Linked DNA regions of Homo sapiens: all the other regions are reported to be linked to region 1. Evidence: microRNA targets listed by miRTarBase, many of them from high-throughput screens and not tested one by one. Region 1 holds a microRNA gene; each other region holds the end of a gene's coding sequence.
What was found. The annotated mature microRNA hsa-miR-410-3p reads AAUAUAACACAGAUGGCCUGU and lies in region 1 at 1,603-1,623, opposite strand. An mRNA with a match to its seed (bases 2 to 7 or 8) in the 3' UTR can be bound and repressed. Matches are read on the target gene's strand: a 7mer-m8 pairs with bases 2 to 8, a 7mer-A1 pairs with bases 2 to 7 and ends in A, and an 8mer does both.

Region 1 (3,134 bases):
TCTGCACTTGGAAATGCTCTCCCTGGCAGAGGGAGGGGCACTGGAGGGAGACCCAAGTGCCACAGGCTGGAGGGACCTAGCCTGTGGGGCGGCCTCTCCAGCAGGGCTGTGGCCCAGGGGCTGGGGAAGAGGGGTGCTGAGGGAGAGTGGGAGCAGGCAGCCCAGAGGGATGGTGCCAGGGATCCCCACTCCCATGCTAGGCATGGAGAGGAGCGGTCCCGAGGAGGAGGACAAGGGGGAGGGCAGGCACAGGCTGTGACTTCCAAGGCAGCGACGTCTCAACTAGGGGATGACGGGAGCCCAGCTCAGGAAGATCTCCCGAGCCCAGGAGCTCACTGATCAACAATGAGTGATAAAGGACAGCCTTAGCTCATTCTTTGGGGTCACTCCTGAGGTGCTCCTTGCCTTCAGCCCTGGACCCTGGGCATGGGCAGCATGTTCTGGAGTCACTAAGTCTCCAGGTCAGCTGCAAACAGGCCTCTGGTCATCTTCCTGTAGTCTGGGCAGGCCAGGGGTGCAAATATGACATAAGCATCGGGTAGCTGAGAGCCAGCCCAGCCTGGGGGATGTGCCAACCGGAAGCAAGGGCATGGCGGGTGCTCCCGCTGACACTGGAATTGGGGATGCCATTCTGTCACACTTCCAAAGCCCCCCAGAACAGAGTGGAGCTGGAAAATTAACAGGCCAAGTGACACAGGTCCTACACAAAGTCCACAGGGTCAACCAGCGCAGAGCCAGCTGCTGCCTGGAGTTGACAGCAAAGAGGAAGGCATCCAAGGTGGGATTCGATATCGGAAAGAGGTTGACTGTATAATATTCATCATATAGAAAGTGAACACCTCACAGGCAACCTATTTCAGGTACCACTGAGCAGCACTGACTCCAGGGAGGAGGCTTCTTCCACAGGGAAGGGCCCTGCCACCCACCCGCCTCCAGGATGGAGGCCAGCACAGGGCTGCAGGTGGAAGTCAAGCGCGTGCTCGGCCACCAGCCATGCCTCTGGGGGCCCACAGGGCGCGCAACCGGACCTCCCCGACATCAGCAGGTGCAGGAATCATGCAGGTGGGATCTGATACTGAAGAGAGGCCGCTCGTGTCTTGTGTGTCATGATTTCTGTGAATGCAACACAGGCCACCTCTCCTCAGGCACCACAAGGAGCAGCACACGCACACGGCCACCCAAGGCACCAGCTCCCACCCAGGGTCTCACAGCACTGAGATGAGCAGAAGGCAGCCCAGGTGCAGGGAATGCATGCAGCCGCCCCCAACATCCTGGCGAGGGGTGGGTGGCCTTCCAGCAGGATGCCTTCCAGCGGGACTAGCTCCCCCGTGTCCTCTGCCTCGATGACACTGGCCATGAAAAACAGACTGAGCCCCGTCACCATTGCTCATCAGCTTCATGACCGCCCCCCACCACAGTGCACAACCCTAGCATCTTCCCCAAAGTCCACATGGCCCCCCGAAAGCTCTCCCAAAATGATTCAATGGCGGGGGTCAGGGGAAAGGATGACAAATGTCACACCAGCCCATGCATTCACGTACCCTGGAAAGTCCCGCCTCAGGCGTGGCGCCCGCACACCACCGGGCGGTAGCGGTACTGAAAACAGGCCATCTGTGTTATATTCGTCATTAATAAAAGCGAACTCATCACAGACAACCTCTTCTCAGGTACCCAGAGTGCCATCGGCTCAAGAACGTGGCTGCCGCGTCCCGTGGTGCCAGCGCTGCCCCCGGGAAGCAGTCCTGAGGACGGATGGGACATCAAAGGTGAGAAGACACAGAGACAGGAAAGAGACCCCTGCCCGGCCCACTCTCGGTGACCAGGCCCCACTGAGGCAGCGACTCCAAAGCACCCGTCCTGCTCCTACCCTCAAAAGGGCTTCATCTCCAACGGGTCCTCCAAGGTGAGATTTGATACTGAGAAAAGATCAACCATGTATTATTCGAAGTCAATAAAGCGAATATAACACGGTCGATCTCCCTTCAAGTACCAGGAAAGGCGCTGAGCTGAAGCGCGATCGGCTCCCCGGCCCGCAGGCCCCACAGGCTGCAGCGGATACGGACGGCTAGTGGACCAGGTGAAGTACATTAGAAACAATTACTTTCCAACTGGTCGACCATCCATCCCCGTACCCCAGAATGGTGCTGATGCCGGCGTCCTTCCCCGAGGTGCCCCAGCCTCCAAGACGGCCTCCCTGGTGGAATTTGATACCGAAAAGGGGTTCACCGAGCAACATTCGTCGTCCAGATGCAAAGTTGCTCGGGTAACCTCTCCCCGAGTACCATGGAGAGGCTCAGATGCTCGGACTAAGGTGAATGCTTGCAGGCGGCTGTGCTTGCAGAAGACCCTCCCCCAAGGGCAGCACAAGGTCTGGGCATTCAGAGCCCAGAGCCTCACACTCTCCAAGGACGTTCCCAATCACCAAGTCCAACGATTCCAACCCCTTCCAGAATGAATCTAGAGACTCTTCCCAGAAGTTGAGTGCAAGACCCAGGTAGGATCTTATACTGAAAAGACGGCAACCTTCCTTGGGCACCTTGCTAAAGATGAAAATGAAACCCTGCTCGCACCCGCTTTTCATTCCCAGACCCTGAGAGGGGGTGACCCTGTAGGGACCCCTGCACAAGCACAGAGCCTCCCTCCCAGCAGAGGATTCCTTTGGCGGGAGCTCAACGGGGCACAACGCTGACCCCAGACCTGCGGTCTCACCAGCACCATCTCCAGCCCACAGAGGCATCACCCCAGGATCCCTCAAAGAGTAACTTCACAGTTATCAACAGCTGGCTGACCATCTGATTAGCCTCATAAAGCAAGTGAGACATTCAAAATAAGGGACTGGGGGGATAAATGCAGCAGAAGAAAGCAGGTGAGTCACAGATGTCTTCTCTTCACAAGGGTCAGGGCAGCCCTGACCTCAGAACCCAACCTTCCCCAGACTCAGAGAACACCCAGAAGGTGCCTCCTGGAGCGGGCAGCCAGCAAGCATCGGGCCAGACGATGGATGCCACAAGCAGAGTCCAGATTCTGTGCCCACCACCCATTCTGTGAACTTTGGAGTGGGACCGACAGCAGAATCCTTTCCCTGACGTTGGCATGAGCTCAGAGAGCCCTCTGCGCCTTGCTACAAGTGGAGC
Region 2 (3,134 bases), not on the chromosome of region 1:
ATTTAAGCTTTTACTAGCCTGTAACAACTGAAAAAGTGTGTTTTACACCCTAAAGGTGCAGCTGAGGACCTGTGCCCATGCCTGGCCCCCAGGGACTATTCTCAGAGCTCACCCGCGGTGTGAGCCTGGGGCAAGTTTCCAGACCCAACACACCAGGCTCTGGCCTCAGGCCTGCCTCCCAGCAGCCTCTGCCCCCACCCTGCCCACCACCAGTCTGAAGGAAGAGGCGCGGAGTCGTGGGGAAAACATCCACTTTAAGCTTTATTACAACACATTGTCTCCAAATACAAAGGGAGGGGCCGGGAGCAGAAGGTGCGGCTGTGGCGGGAGGGGCTCCAAGGGGGGCTGAAGGGCCGGCAGCCCAGTCTACAGAGACTGGAGGCTCAGCGGGGGACCTGCACCCTCTCCTCCGCTGGACTTCCCAGCAAATAACAGGAGGGGCCGGGTCCATTTTGGGGCGATCCCAATGCCAGGCAGTGGCCAGGTGGGAGGGGCCGGAGAGAGGCTTGGAGAGGACTCAGGGCTGGGTCAGGTGAAAGCCACCAGGTGGGGCCCTGGCCCGCCTCCCGCAGCACTGGAGGAGGCAGTGGCCAGGTGGGAGGGGCCGGAGAGAGGCTTGGAGAGGACTCAGGGCTGGGTCAGGTGAAAGCCACCAGGTGGGGCCTCAGCCCGCCTCCTGCAGCACTGGAGGAGGCAGTGGCCAACACAGGACCTTCGCCCCCCTGCTGGCTGCTCACTTTGCGGTAACCAGTGCCTCAAGAGTGGGAGCAGAGACAGACTGAGACAGACAGCCCCCCTCAACGGCCTGCAGAAGGGACAAGGGGAAGGGGGAAGGGAGAAGGGGGCCCAACCAGTGGCCCCAGACCACTGTCTCCCGGACAGCACAGGGGTGGGGGGCGAGAAGCGGGAAGCCAGTGCATCCTCCTCACCCAGGGTCTCCTCAGAAACCCAACGCAACAGACATATGGGAGGCAAATTTACATAATTAATAATAATTAACCAATAATAATAAATACTTAAACCTCTAATCCATAGATTGCAAATACAACGATAGCTTATTTTCTTGGGGGAACAGGAGTGGGTGGGGACAGAGGGAACGGGAACAGGACTTTTGCTGAAAGGAGGGATGACAGGAACACAGAGCTGTGGGTGAAAAGAAGAACAAATAGAAGAAACAGCAGAGAGGGCGGCTGGCTGGGGCGGGATGGGCGCCTCCCTGGCCCTGCTCCAGGACTCAGGACTGGGTCCTGCCCTGGGCTGCCTCTCCGGCCAAGCCCCTGGCCTCTTCCCACAGTGACTGGCCCCACTCCTAGACCCTAGGACATCTGAAGGGCAGGGGTCCCAATGGCCCGAGGGGGTATGGGGCAGGGGCAGCAGGCTGACCCACCTGGGCCCAAAAGCCACTTGTGTTTGGGGGCTGGCATGCCACCTAGAGAGAGAGCACCCTGGGAAAGGGGTGAATGGGAGTTTCTCTCCTGAGCGGCCCCATGGGGGTGGGGGCAAACGAGGGGGCTTTACCTGTCTTGAGGCAGTGCTCCCTAAGTGAAGCAGGCCTATCCCAGCAGCACAGGGGCTTGGCTGGCGCCTGAACTCCCTGTGTGAGCAGCACCTGCTCACAGAGCCCCTCAGCCTGCAGGTGCACACCTGAATTCCAAGTTCTGCCTGGGGCATGGCTGGGAGGGGGGCGGGGCAGACCTGGAACAGAACCCTAAGACCACCCCCTCCTCATACCTGGGGGTCCAGGGCTTCCTGCCCAGTGGAGCCAGCACTGGCTAGCCAGGCGCCTCCTGCCTGACCCCCGGAGGCCAAGCTCCTCTCCTGCAATGGTGCCACCCTGCCCGGCAGGCAGCTCTGGGGGCATGGGCAAGGGAGAAGGGAGGGCCGCAGCCCTCTAGGAATGGCCTTTCTGAGCCACTCTGTGGCTGGACTGGGGCTCTGGCAGGAGTTGGGGGCACTAACACCTCTGTCCTCCCCTGGGCTGCACCTCATCTGACGTTCCAGAACCCCCTGCCCGAAGCCCCTACACACACTGTTCTATTTCTCAGCCCCTCTGAACACCCTGGCACCATGAAGCCCAATGCCTGTCCTCCCCTGCCAGAGAACAGCTCTGGGGCAACGGGCAGCGGGGTGCCCTCCTTGCCACCAAGATTTGGTGCCTGGAGCTGATGGAGGGCTGGCCGCACCTCTCCGGGGCACACCAGCTCCTGCTCCTCCATCCTATGGCTTTGGTGCAGAGCCCTAGGCCGGCGCAGAGAAGGGAGGGAGCAGGGGAGGTGGGTGGGGGGAGAAGGGGGGTTCTGCGGCTCAGTTTGTGGCAAAGAAGTTTTTTTTTCCTTTTTTTCACCTTTTTGTTATGTAAAAAGTGCACGAAAGCTCGGCAGCCTTTGCAAAGGTCAGCAGTGTTTCCTGGGGCGGGGGAACTGGGAGGGGCCCCAGGCCTGGCACCCAGCTTGCGACTGAAGGTGGCCTCGTATTGCTTAGAAACGTATGTTTCAGTTTAAATACCAGACAGTAAAAATAGAGCTCGAGGACCACCCGCACTGTTGCCAAATCATTGCCAGAATGAACAGCTTAAATAAATAAAAAATCGAAATATTTACTTCTCGATAAAAATCCCAGTAAAACCATTTACCTTTCTTTGCATTATATATAATATACATTTATAACGGGCCTGGCTGCGGGCGGCGGGGCCGAGGGCAGCGGAGGGGTCAGGACACCTCGATGACCTCCACGCTGCCCGAGAAGCTCGCCTGCTTGCCCAGGGCGGCCAGCTCCTCGCCGCGCGCGCGCCCCTCCACCATGCCCTCCTCGAACTCCATCTGGCAGCTGCGGCGCTTGAACTGCGTCTCCGGGGCCGGCTCCTCGGGCCAGCCGGTCCGCGCGTCCCGGGGCTCAGCCCTCGCTGCCTCCCGCCGCCGCAGGTCGCTGCCGCCGCCTGGTCCCGGGGCGCCCGCCCGGCCGAAGGGCGCAAACAGCACCCCGCCCGCCCCCTGTGCGCCCTCGGGGCTGAAGCACCAGGGCCCGTCGGGCGACGGCGTGCCTGGGGAGTCGAGCGGCGGTGCCCAGGCCCCGGGGCCGGCCGGCTGGCCAGGGCCGGGCAGCCCGGGCGCCGACAGGGCCGAGAGGCCGTGCCG
Region 3 (3,000 bases), not on the chromosome of region 1:
TGGTGAAAGACATCCAAGGGGCCTTGCACAGTTACAAAGAAATCATCATTGAAGCCACTAAACATCGCAACTCTGAAGAGATGTGGAGGAGGATGAACTTGATGACGCCAGAAGCCCTGGGTAAGCTCAAAGAAGAGATGAAAAGTTGTGGGGTAAGTAACTTTGAGCAGTACACAGGGGATGACTGCTGGGTGAACCTAAGTTACACAGTGGTTGCTTTCACCAAACAGACCATGGGCTTCTTGGAAGAGGCCCTGAAGCTGTATTTCCCAGAGCTGCACATGGTACTTTTGGAGAGCCTGGTGGAAATCATTTTGGTTGCTGTTCAGCATGTGGATTATAGTCTTCGATGTGAGCAGGATCCAGAGAAGAAAGCTTTTATCAGACAGAATGCATCCTTTTTATATGAAACAGTCCTCCCTGTGGTGGAGAAAAGGTTTGAAGAAGGTGTGGGGAAACCTGCCAAGCAACTCCAAGATCTGAGGAATGCATCTAGACTTATTCGTGTGAATCCTGAAAGTACAACATCAGTGGTCTAATGCTTGGGTCTGTTTATATGTGTATATATGCAGAGAGAGAGCTTATATATTATTTATATTTATATTAAGTTGTATTAGCATACTCTATAGTTTCAAACACAACTTGAAAATTAAAAGTGCCCTCTTAAAAATACAAAAATCAAAAAGAGGAAAATAAGTTAAATTAAGCCCAAGTAACAAAAATACTGGAATTATTAAAACGTATAGTATGCTAGCTATCCTTTTAAATTATGCTAATTCTCTTCTTCTGAAATTATGGTCACACTATATACTATAGCATTTCGGTTTTATCCTTTGATAAAACTTTTCTTTTTTCTTTTTTTTTTTTGAGACAGGGTCTCACCCCGTCGCACAGGCTGGAGTGCAGTGGCAAAGTCTCGACTCACTGCAGCCTTGACCTCCCGGGCCCAGGTAGTCCTCCCACCTCAGCCTCCCATGTAGCAGGAACCACAGGCAGGCACCACCATACCCAGCTAATTTTTGTATTTTTTGTAGAGATGGGGTTTCGCCATGTTGCCCAGGCTAGTCTTTTCTTTCTTCTTTTTTTTTTTCCCCACAGTATATATTATACAGCAGTCATAATATCTATAAATACATAGAGTTTATGTTGTGAAGTTTCCCAGTTCACTGAAATGTTAGGTTTCCTAAAGGGTACAGTGCCGTATAAAACAACCTGCCTCATATATTTCTCCTCAAAACGTTGGACTATTTGGGAAAAGGAAAAGAGTTGGGAAAATTGGTTTTAAGGTAAGTTTTAGTCAAAAGAATTCTTTCTTGAAACTAGCTGGTTTGTGGATTCAGATACTCTGATCCTTACAGAATCCAAGAGGAAGCTTTCATAAAAACAATTCAGCAAATATTTCCAATATAATTTGAATGGCTAATTTTCAGTTGCTAATTAATTAGCAGCTTTGTAATACTTGATTTGGGAGCATTTACTTGGAAATCCTAAGGACTATAATAAAAGTTTTCAACATATTTCTAAATTGTGTGAGTTTCCAGCTGTAGCTTTTGTCTTTGTCACATTTTAAAAAATAATAAGCAAGACACATTGGGGACACTGGCAGCAGTTGCCAGGTTTTAGCTGCCACCGCTTCAGTATGAGATATAGCTGTCCCATCTTCCCCCATTCAGGGTAGGAGATATAGTGACCCAGACTTCATGCAAATGGAAAAAAAGTTTTAACTGAAATATTTATTTAGATTTCAGGGTCTAGATGGATGGGAAAGTAGAAAAACATATGCAAATCTCAGTGTTCTCACTATGACCACTCTGAGCAGAGATTTGGTTTTGTTTCCTTTTGTAACAAAGTGAAAACAGGTGAGACAATGTGCCCAAAACAAAGGGAAGAAGAGAACCTTCTGTGACTCCTAAAATGTTCCATGCTGCATTTTTGTTTCATTTTTTATTTTTCCTTGCTTTGTTTTTAAACATGAATATAATGCTTACTTCAAATTGTTTAGTAAAACAAAATAACTAAAGAAATGTGAGCTTCCCAAGGTTTCTAAACTATCGCTGTTGTATATTCTATAGCGTTCCTTATTCTTTGAGGGAAACTGTGCTTGCTGTGATCCATTTTGTCTCTAGCTTCTAGTTGTGATTCTTGTCCATAAGCACCAAATTTGATGCCCATGATTTCAAAAGGTCATTTCTTTTATCTGAATGAAAATGGTGGTACTAAGACTGTGAAAATTATGTGAAACCTAAAGTAGTTGCCAAAGTGGCTCAGGGTTGTAAAATTCATTGACTTAATTATTCATGTGCCAGATCAACCCCTTTATTTTCTCTTTAGCTGTGCATATTTAAAATATTGGAAAGTATCAGATTTACAGATTTTCTTTGACTAATTTTTTTCACATAACTTTAGGATTTTCGAAAGTTGTAACCATAACTGGATATCTTAGCTGAGCAAAGGCGGTTATAATTTGTCTTTTTAAGATCACTGGAAATTGATAAAATTTTGTGATAATTATGATTATTCTGTGCCATTTACAGTTTCTAATACTATACTGTATGAAATATGTATAAATATATGATGCTGAGTCTGTGGAATGATACTTCTGAAATCAAAATTCCTCATAAGGCATGAAGTTGTAAAAACTTGAATGTGTATAGTTAGATATTTAAATGGTTGCTTCTTCATAGAATTGTCTGCTTTTTAAAACTGGAAGTACAGGATTTTCTTCAGGTAAAATCTGTGTGTTCCAATTACAGTTGTAGCTGAAGGAAGTATGCTTTGGTGAGTCAATTAGTATGGGAACTTGACTAAAGACCCCCAGTGTTGTAACGTACCTTTGTACCCAGACAAAACAATTATGTTACATTCCTCAAAGTGGCATGGGCTTTCTTCTCTAATTCTTCTGTTTTATTAGACCCAAGACAAGTTCTAAAAATTGAATGCAATGAGAGATTGTCCAGAAATGTAATATATACTAAAATATACCACTTAAGCATTGATTGC
Region 4 (3,134 bases), not on the chromosome of region 1:
TACAATGAGGAGCACTGTTTTAAATTTCACAAAGAGCTTGCTTACACATATGTGAAAATCATCAACTATATGATAGTCATTTTTGTCATAGCCGTTGCTGTGATTCTGTTGGTCTTCCAGGTCTTCATCATTATGTTGATGGTGCAGAAGCTACGCCACTCTTTACTATCCCACCAGGAGTTCTGGGCTCAGCTGAAAAACCTATTTTTTATAGGGGTCATCCTTGTTTGTTTCCTTCCCTACCAGTTCTTTAGGATCTATTACTTGAATGTTGTGACGCATTCCAATGCCTGTAACAGCAAGGTTGCATTTTATAACGAAATCTTCTTGAGTGTAACAGCAATTAGCTGCTATGATTTGCTTCTCTTTGTCTTTGGGGGAAGCCATTGGTTTAAGCAAAAGATAATTGGCTTATGGAATTGTGTTTTGTGCCGTTAGCCACAAACTACAGTATTCATATTTGCTTCCTTTATATTGGGAATAAAAATGGGTATAGGGGAGGTAAGAATGGTATTTCATTACTTGATCAAAACCATGCCTTGATGTACCCAAAACAAAAGGACTATAAAATGCAAGAGCCCTCATTGTAGTCCTTATGGGATCCCTCCCATCTCTGAGTGATGGCCGTACAAAGACCAGTGTTGTTGAATCCACCTGGAGTTGCAATATTACATTATTTTCCAGTACAGAATGTCTGTGTGGCCCATGAAAGCAACATAGGTTTTAAGAGTTTTAGAGTTTCATTAGCTCATTCTAAGTTCCTCTGTTTGAAGCATGGTCTCTTAGGTTTTGGACTGAACTCAGACCTTTAGTTCTTTTCATCCCACTTCACCTTAGGTAAGTAAATTCTGGCCACCACCCAGCTCCAAAGACACAAACTCTCCTTCGCTAACCAGGTTAGATGTCCCATTCATCTCATGCCCTGATAAAAACTGATAAGGGGAGAGAATAGTTAAAAATTTTTCTAGGGTATCATAACTCTGGTAGGAAGTCATCTGTCTAGAAATCAAGAGAAAAAGAACGTGTGGCCTCCTGTTATAACAAGGGTTTCTAGATTTGTCCTGTGAAAGGTCGTTTAAGGACTTGGGGATCAACTTCCTCAATTATCACCAATTGCACTGTTGCTCCAAAAATCATTTAAAAGCTTACTGGACATATCTACATAATGGTGAAACTGTAATTTAGAGACTATCCCTGACTAATGTGCTGGTAGGCATTAAAATGAGTTCCCAAGGGAAGTGATTAAAATTTTTTTCTCTTCTGTTTTTTGAGAGAATTTCTAGATGTCCTGGGCCACAGTTAATTAAGATTTTTAGGGGGGACAGAAAGTTATACTGAAATCTTTAGAGCTCCCTTCCGCCGTTAAAATTATATATATATATATTTAAATTATACCTTAAGTTCTGGGGTACATGTGCAGAATGTGCAGGTTTGTTACATAGGTATACACGTGCCATGGTGGTTTGCGGCACCTGTCAACCCATCTACATTAGGTATTTCTCCTAATGCTCTCCCTCCCCTAGCCCCCCACCCCTGGACAGGCCCCATTGTGTGATGTTCCCCTCCCTGTGTCCATGTGTTTTCATTGTTCAACTCCCACTTCTAAGTGAGAACATGCGGTGTTTGGTTTTCTGTTCCTGTGTTAGTTTGCTGAGAATGATGGTTTCCAGGTTAAAATTATATATTTTTAAATAAATGAAAACTGTGTTTTTAAAAGAGGACTTTTGAGAAGTATATAGAAAAACCATTAATTTAGACTCTGTGAGATTAGGTTGCATGAAGAAGGTTTTCTGAATATTTGAAGAGTGGATAAATAAATGTCCCCCAAAGCAATAAAATCATAATCCTTTAAAATATAGGAAAAATAACTAATGGGAACTAGGCTTAATACTCGGGATGAAATAATCTGTACAACAAACTCCCATGACACATGTTTACCTATGTAACAAACCTGCACATGTACCCCTGAACTTAAAATAAAATTTAAAGTAATAATAATAAAATAATATGGATTTTCTTTCCAAATTCGGAATTACTTTTTGTAAAATTGTATTAATAACTTGTGGCATGTGGCACGTTAAACTGATTTTATTTCAAGAACTTCTGTTACTGGCTAGGTTGATACATAGGCTTGTGGGTTTTTGCTTTTTGGGTTTTTTTTGCTCCTGCCCATACTTCCAGTGTCTTCAGTGTTTTATCTTAAAATTTTCCCAGGATCTGATCCAGTTTCATATTTAATGCTGCAGAAAACCTGAAGTGATTAGTAACATGAATAGAATAACAGAATGAATTAAGGGAACTTTTTTTTTCATCAAGGTATATCTTCGGGATTTAAAAGTTTTTCATAATTTATTATCACTGTGGATCCACAAATTCCTCAGATGAATAAGAAATACCTCTGTGAATTTCTGTGACCACTAAAATTACTGAGCCACAGAAATTAATTCTGAGGAAGCAGAAGTAGCAACATAGTTCAAACATGACTTGTTTCCATATATTTTCTGTTTTATATATTCTTTTAAATATCCTTTTAAACAAGTAATATTTCTTTTCTTTCTTGCCTTTTTTCCCATTTATTTTTTACATTTTTTCTTTCTCATTTTGAACCATAAAATTTGTAAGACCGTTACTAAGACCCCTGATAGTTTTAAGAAAATTTATAATACCTATAAATATGTAAAAAAAATTTAGAAAAATATTTAAATTAAAAGTATTCATGAGAATTTCATTACCTTGTAGATTATGTCATACTCTTTTCCAGATTTTAGATATGTTGAGGTCAGGCAATTCAAAAGAATTAATCTCTGTATTAATCTGTTATAATGTTAACATAACACTATGTTATTTTCATATATTATAATAACAGGCTTATTAGAAATGTTCTCAAAAGATAGAAATGCAATATTTCATAATATAAAATATCTTTTTCATCAGTATTTATGGAATAAATAGAAAAATTTTAGTTTTCCTGTTCTTTGTCTTGAATCAATACAGAAATGAACCTCATGTGACATTGGGAGTGACATTGGCCTCTAGGGCCATTTTTGGATATCACCATTATAAGAGAGCACTAGTATTAGCATTTGGTGGTGGGAGCCAAGGAATAGACATCTTGCCTTGCACATAATTGTCTG
Region 5 (3,078 bases), not on the chromosome of region 1:
TTCTAACTAAAATGAATGCATTAAACCCTTTGGTTAGAAAAAAATTATATTGTAAGCCATTACTGATTGTTCTAATCCTGTTGAGTGCGCTAACTCTGATCTTCTGATTGAATCAGATCTTGATTTTGCCAGCCTTGCTCGAGGTTTTGCCCTGCTGAGGATGCCCAAGATGCCAGAATTGAGAGGAAAGCAGTTTCCAGATTTTGTGCCCGTGGACGTTAATACCGACACGATTCCATTTAAAGATAAAATCAGAGAAAAGCAGAGGCAGAAACTCCTGGAGCAACAAAGAAGAGAGAAAACAGAAAATGAAGGGAGAAGAAAATTCATAAAAAATAAAGCTTGGTCAAAGCAGAAGGCCAAAAAAGAAAAGAAGAAAAAAATGAATGAGAAAAGGAAAAGGGAAGAGGTAAAGTTTACTTTTACTTACATTAACTTAGAATCTTGAACAAATTTATTGTAGTAGTTCTTTAAATAGGAATTGTGTGGGGCTGTCAGATTTCTGTTACGTTGGCGACCAGGGTGGGGAATTTGCTCTATTTGCAGAAGCCAATCTGAGAGCTTATAGTTCTTGAGTTAAAACTGCTGGTTTCACTACAACACTATTGCTGAAAAATTTAGTAGTTTATTGGTTTCTTCTGCACTTAGGGTTCTGATATTGAAGATGAGGACATGGAAGAACTTCTTAATGACACAAGACTCTTGAAAAAACTTAAGAAAGGCAAAATAACTGAAGAAGAATTTGAGAAGGGCTTGTTGACAACTGGCAAAAGAACAATCAAGACAGTGGATTTAGGGATCTCAGATTTGGAAGATGACTGCTGATTCCAGTGCCACAGATGAACCCACAAGGACATAGCTGTTCCCTAACTTGGTGGATGGCTCCAGTTTGCTTTTAACGAAAATCACAACTTCAGGAGACATCTGAAAAGAATGATGTCTCTGAAAGCTGTCCTTTCAGATGAGGGAGAAATGAAGGATTTCACACTTCAGAATATTTTACTAAAAACATTCCAGTCTTGGCCGGGTGCGGTGGCTCCTGCCTATAATCCCAGCACTTTGGGAGGCTGAGGCAGGAGGATCACTTGAGCCCAGGAGTTCAAGACCAGCCTGGGAACACAGCGAGACCCTCTCATTAAAAACAACAAAACAAAACAATTCCAGTCTTGGAGTAGTCTAACAGAAGAAAATGTAAAATTATTTGAGTGTAAATAATAGATGTCAGTATTTATCATGATGGGTCACATATAGACATATGTACATATTATATATATATATATATATATATATATATATATATATATATATATATAAGCTCTTTTTTCTGAGGCTATTTTATAGTTATTTTTAAACATAAAGATACAGAAGTCTTCTTGACTTCTGATTTTCAAAACCATTCCTCAGTATCTTCAGGCATTTGACCTCCTGAATGTGCTTGGCCCTGGGCTTCAGTTATCCTTTGATGTCCTGCAGGGGTGGCTAATGTGCTGGGGTTTTTCTGTGTTAATAGTCACAGTATTGTTTTATTGGTGAATAGCTGAAAAACAGAGGGATTAAGTCATATTCCGGGAAAGAGAATTATAGTTTTTATGCCTCCTGTTGAATAAATGGTGTCCTGATTGCCTGGGTCTTAAGTGTGTAAATGTAGCTGGACAGTGTTTTCCCCTAGATGGCCTGGTCAGCTTGCAGTATTGATGCAACACCACATCAGCGTCTTTCATAGAGTTTATTTGAAAAGATGCTGAATTTATTCCCAAGTATAATTTTAAAAAGCTGTTTAGGACCCAAACATATTTAAACATCTCTTACACATACAGAATTTCAGTTTACAAATATTCCAGAAGGCATTTTCTTAAGCAGTGAACCATGCAGAATACTGTTGCTAAACATCGTTTCTGCCTTCCTCGTGTTCTCTTGGTAGTTTTTACTGTTTGGCTTGATCCTGCTGAGGAATGTGCTTACCACTGGAAGCCAGATGCAGATTCAGCAAGTGTTTCTTGCCTCTTACAAGGCACCGCGTGTAACGTCCTGACCAGCTGTTGGTCATTTGTGGCAGAGGGGTGTGGCTGCTTTTCGCCTGCATCTCGCGTGCTTTAGGCAGATCAGTCTGGAGTGCAGGGGAGGATGAAGACAGGTGGACTTGGGCTCATCTTTCATCAGTTAAGTAGCCAATTATCTAACTTGTATTTCTGGAAACTGAAAAGGAAAGTTTCTAGAAACCGTAAGAACAATTTAAGTTGGGATTTAGAATAGCTGACACATTTTTAGATGGGACTGAAATGAGTAAGAAAGGTTCTCCAAGATGTATGATTTTAAGTCCTTACTCCATAAATCTTCATTAAACACATCTCAGTTTTGGCCTGACTCACTGGGGTGTCAAGCAGCTACTCACCCTGCCTCAACTACGTAAGCTGCACCTTGGCAGGAAAGGGCTCACAGGTTACAGATAGAGCTTGATGAGCTCATCGCTGACTGCTGAGGGTGTCAGCACGCCCAGGTCTGTAAACAGCAGAGTGATTAAGGAAGGGGCAGTGTAGTCGACCCACGGATGCTCCTCTTTGAGGTCTTGTCCAGTCTGCGCGACCTTGAGAGTGTCTGCCTTATACTGAGGAGAGAAGTACACATTAGTCGGCACTGAATATTTAGTGCTCTGACCTGGTAGGGCCTTGGTGTGAGTGATCAGTGTGCTACTTCCTGAGACTGCTCTCTGAAAATGGGAGAAACTAAGCTATGCAGGACACTAGAGACGAGGGCAGAGTTGTGGCCATGAGCCAGATCATGGCAGTGTGCTGGCTGAGAGCTGTAGTGTAACAAACTTAAATCCCATGTCCCCTCATTCTCATGCCGGATTAACTTCTCCAGACCTCTCAAGGGAAGATCGAGAGTCACAATAGAGAGCTTGCAGCGTGCCAGGGACTGTGCTAAGATTATCTTAGAATCCTCATGACCCTGTCAGATACTGCTATGCCATTTTACAGACAAGAAAACCGGTTCAGAGGTTGAAATGAAAGGACTTGCCTCAACTCGCACAGTTTGTAAGTTGTGGTGATGGGAGCTGAGCTCAGTTAAGCCCAAAGC
Region 6 (3,120 bases), not on the chromosome of region 1:
GATGTTTACAAGCCACCCCCCAGACTATGGTACTTTATTATAGCAGTCCAAACTAAGACACGTTCCAAGACTTTCACATCATAGGTATTTCTTCCTATTTTTATATTTGGCTCTGTTCTTCAGACAATGTCAGATGTAAATAGGCAAAACTATAATTTGACATAAGCTTTTAGTGGTAAAAGTGTTTAAGTTTAAATATGTATATATTTACTATCTGGCCTTTTATATAAAAAACTTGACCCGAGGTAGATTATTGAAACTTCCACAATAAAATGACTTCTTCAAAACTTTTCTTCCATATTTATGTAATACTTCACTTACTTGACTACTTTCCCCACATTTAAATATATACATATTTAAACTTCATGAAATATATTTACATTTCATGAGTATAAATTGCATGTATCTCATGTACATCCCAATTATCTTTGCTACGACATACATATAACAAAGATAACTAGGATGTACATGAAAAGATTATCAAGGTACTCACCAAAAATCTTTATAGTTACTATTCTGGATGGTAGAATAAAGAATGTTTTATATTTTTTTCTTTTGGAATTTGAATTTTATATTGACTATGTATCATTCTTACAAACAAAAAATTTAAAGCTATTTTCACCTTGAAAAATAAAAAAACACTAGAAAATTTTGTCAGCAAATCTTTCAAAAATTCACAAGGAAAAAACTTATCACCTGAGGGTACGAAAAAATGTGGAAGAATTTCATTAGGCAGTAGAGGACTTATTGATGACAATTTCAAATTTGATAAGTCTAGGGGAAAACAACCAAACAAACATGCAAAGCTGACCAATAAAGTCAGCAGTGCTATTCCTTTCCTTCCTTATGTTTCTAAACAAACCATAAAATATACAACAGATGTACTACTCACTGGCCATTGTCCTGTAGCATACAAACATGACATTATTTTTTCTTCCACATAATTCATTTATTTGATAAGCACTTAGGAACACCCACTATGCTCACGTACTGTTGTAGGGGCTGAGGCAAAATGGTGACTAAGACTGAGAGTATCTGCTCTCACAATGCTTAATAATCTAGTGGGGAAAGGAGCCAATAAGTAAAGCATTACATAAATATAGCAGAAAACTTTAGAAGAAGTTATTTTATTCTATAAGTTTCAATAATGTACTTTAGGTGTCAAATTTTTTATGTAGAAGGCCAGACAGTAAATATTTTAAGCTTTGTGGGCCACACAGCCTTTGTGCAACTATTCATCTCTGCCACTCTAATGTGAAAACCGCCACAGCCAGCCCATATACAATTAGAGTGTGACTGTGTTCTAATAAAATTTTATCTATGAAAACAGGGGTGAGATAGATCTGACTCACTGGCCATAGTTTGGCACCCCAGATCTATTTTAAAAGCTAACAATAACCACAAAATAAAATCCTAAAAGTTTTTCAAAGCATAATTGAAAGCATGTAGACCTAGCAGTAGAACTAGTTCAGTTGGTGTTTTCCTGTGTTCTGAAGCCACTGAATTGCTTATACCAAAATCACTTTTATTTCAAATTTTCTATGACTTTGGAAAAAGATCCTAAGAAATAACTAATAACTTAGGACAAAGAGTACACCTTTAAAGCTGCTTCTGTATTTAAAGACTCTGTGGACTTAAAATCATATCTGAATTCTCTTCATGGTTCTGTCAATAATTTGATGCAAAATAATGATGAAAAAATTTAAGTTTGGTTTCTGGATCTTTAAAAACTTTTAGAAGGGTACTACCAACTAACTCCATAGCAGCCAACATGAATAAGTTTTCACTGGAACCCACTGAGGATCTCAGGGCTCTAGTGAATATTCTCTGGTAAACAGAATGTGGCTAGCCTTCTCTTCAAACTAAAGAGATTTTTTTTTTCTTTTTTTGAGATGGAGTATCACTCTGTCACCCAGGCTGCAGTGCAGTGGCGTGATCTCGGCTCACTGCAACCTCTGCCTCCTGGGATCAAGGGATTCAGTCTCAGGAGTTGCTAAGACTACAGGCGCACACCACCACGCCCAACTAATTTTTTGTATTTTTAGTAGAGATGGGGTTTCACCACGTTGGCCAGGCTGGTCTGGAACTCCTAGCCTCAAGTGATCCTCCCATCTCTGCCTCCCAAAGTGCTGGAATTACAGGTGTAAGCCACCGTGCCCAGCCCTAAAGAGATCTTTTAATTTCAAAAGAAAAACATGTTTGTTGGAAGAAATAAACTAAACAAAACTGTAAAAAGTAAAAGCCCCTCTCCTAGTTGTTGAGTTTATCAGTTTACTTAAAAAATGGCTGTCGCTTATGCCTGTAATCCCAGCACTTTGTGGGGCTAAGGCGGGAGGACTGCTTGAGACCAGCAGTTTGGGACCATCCTGGGCAACATAGCAAGACCCGTCTCTCCAAAAAAAAAAAAAAAAAAAAAAAAATTGCCAGGTGTGATGGTGCACATCTGTAGTCCCGGCTACAAGGGAGGCTAAGGCAGGAAGACTGCTTGAGCCCAGCAGTTCGAGGCTGCTGTGAGATATGATCCCACCACTGCACTTGAGCCTCGGTGGCAGTGCAAAATCCTGTCTCTAAAAACAAAAACCAACAAAAAAAGGCATCTTACTTTCTATGTGGTCCTGAAATTTTTTTCAATTAATGTCAATGACTTTTAATTGTTCTCTTGGTTATCTAACAAGAATCAATAGAAGACTTTTACAAATTAAATGTTATAGAAAATTCTTTAACCAACTCAGTTTAATTCTAAACAGCTTCATGATAAAAAAAAAAAAAAACTTCCTTATATTTCCCAGTAATAAGAGGTTACTGTACGTCAAAAACAAAGGGTTGCAACACTTACTGATATATTGTAGTTTAATAAAACATAGTTTATACAGTTCATTGAAAAAGTATTTTAATACAAACACCACTTATACACAAAACCAAATGTTGATATTCTTGTTTTTAAAAATTCTTGATTTCTCTAAAACACTAAGATGCTATCTCAATAGAGATTGCTTCACATTTTCCAGTTTCTTGATCTGTGCATGTCACATGTAAAGATCCATCCCTAAACAGACAAAAAAATAAAGAACATTGCACAAGCTCATTTTATAAAAACATAAAGTCTGTAACAAGTTACTT

Region 2: the mRNA of DUSP8 is a reported target of hsa-miR-410-3p. Seed matches in the 3' UTR shown: 7mer-A1 at 2,647-2,653.
Region 3: the mRNA of EXOC8 is a reported target of hsa-miR-410-3p. Seed matches in the 3' UTR shown: 7mer-A1 at 582-588.
Region 4: the mRNA of GPR141 is a reported target of hsa-miR-410-3p. Seed matches in the 3' UTR shown: 7mer-A1 at 1,369-1,375, 7mer-A1 at 1,678-1,684 and 7mer-A1 at 2,507-2,513.
Region 5: the mRNA of EIF2B1 is a reported target of hsa-miR-410-3p. Seed matches in the 3' UTR shown: 7mer-A1 at 1,308-1,314.
Region 6: the mRNA of HSPA14 is a reported target of hsa-miR-410-3p. The part of its 3' UTR that is shown has no 7-base or 8-base seed match.

The regions. Positions count from the first base shown.
Region 1 is chr14:101,064,450-101,067,583 of GRCh38, reverse strand. MIR410 (microRNA 410) reads right to left here and starts at 1,672; the gene lies at 1,593-1,672. MIR541 (microRNA 541) reads right to left here and starts at 3,089; the gene lies at 3,006-3,089. It overlaps MIR409 (microRNA 409), which reads right to left and starts at 2,284; the gene lies at 2,206-2,284. MIR412 (microRNA 412) reads right to left here and starts at 2,137; the gene lies at 2,047-2,137. It also overlaps MIR369 and MIR656.
Region 2 is chr11:1,553,810-1,556,943 of GRCh38, forward strand. It overlaps DUSP8 (dual specificity phosphatase 8), which reads right to left. Exons shown (of 7, transcript NM_004420.3): 7 at 242-3,134. The coding sequence ends at 2,709. It overlaps LOC124902608, which reads right to left and starts at 1,671. Exons shown (of 2, transcript XM_047427956.1): 1 at 1,140-1,671; 2 at 798-871. The coding sequence starts at 1,671. The coding sequence ends at 798. RefSeq lists an enhancer at 1,558-2,355.
Region 3 is chr1:231,333,107-231,336,106 of GRCh38, reverse strand. EXOC8 (exocyst complex component 8) reads left to right here. Exons shown (of 1, transcript NM_175876.5): 1 at 1-3,000. The coding sequence ends at 539. Among named protein-coding and RNA genes, the nearest start is that of EXOC8, 3.2 kb to the left of the region's middle.
Region 4 is chr7:37,740,874-37,744,007 of GRCh38, forward strand. GPR141 (G protein-coupled receptor 141) reads left to right here. Exons shown (of 3, transcript NM_001381946.1): 3 at 1-2,962. The coding sequence ends at 438. Among named protein-coding and RNA genes, the nearest start is that of GPR141, 59 kb to the left of the region's middle.
Region 5 is chr12:123,619,316-123,622,393 of GRCh38, forward strand. It overlaps EIF2B1 (eukaryotic translation initiation factor 2B subunit alpha), which reads right to left. Exons shown (of 9, transcript NM_001414.4): 9 at 1,091-2,605. The coding sequence ends at 2,441. DDX55 (DEAD-box helicase 55) reads left to right here. Exons shown (of 14, transcript NM_020936.3): 13 at 117-409; 14 at 649-1,628. The coding sequence ends at 825. Among named protein-coding and RNA genes, the nearest start is that of SNORA9B, 4.1 kb to the left of the region's middle. RefSeq lists an enhancer at 2,062-3,078.
Region 6 is chr10:14,871,454-14,874,573 of GRCh38, reverse strand. It overlaps HSPA14 (heat shock protein family A (Hsp70) member 14), which reads right to left. Exons shown (of 14, transcript NM_016299.4): 14 at 2,833-3,046. The coding sequence ends at 2,968. It also overlaps a transcript of SUV39H2-DT not described here. Among named protein-coding and RNA genes, the nearest start is that of SUV39H2-DT, 5.6 kb to the left of the region's middle.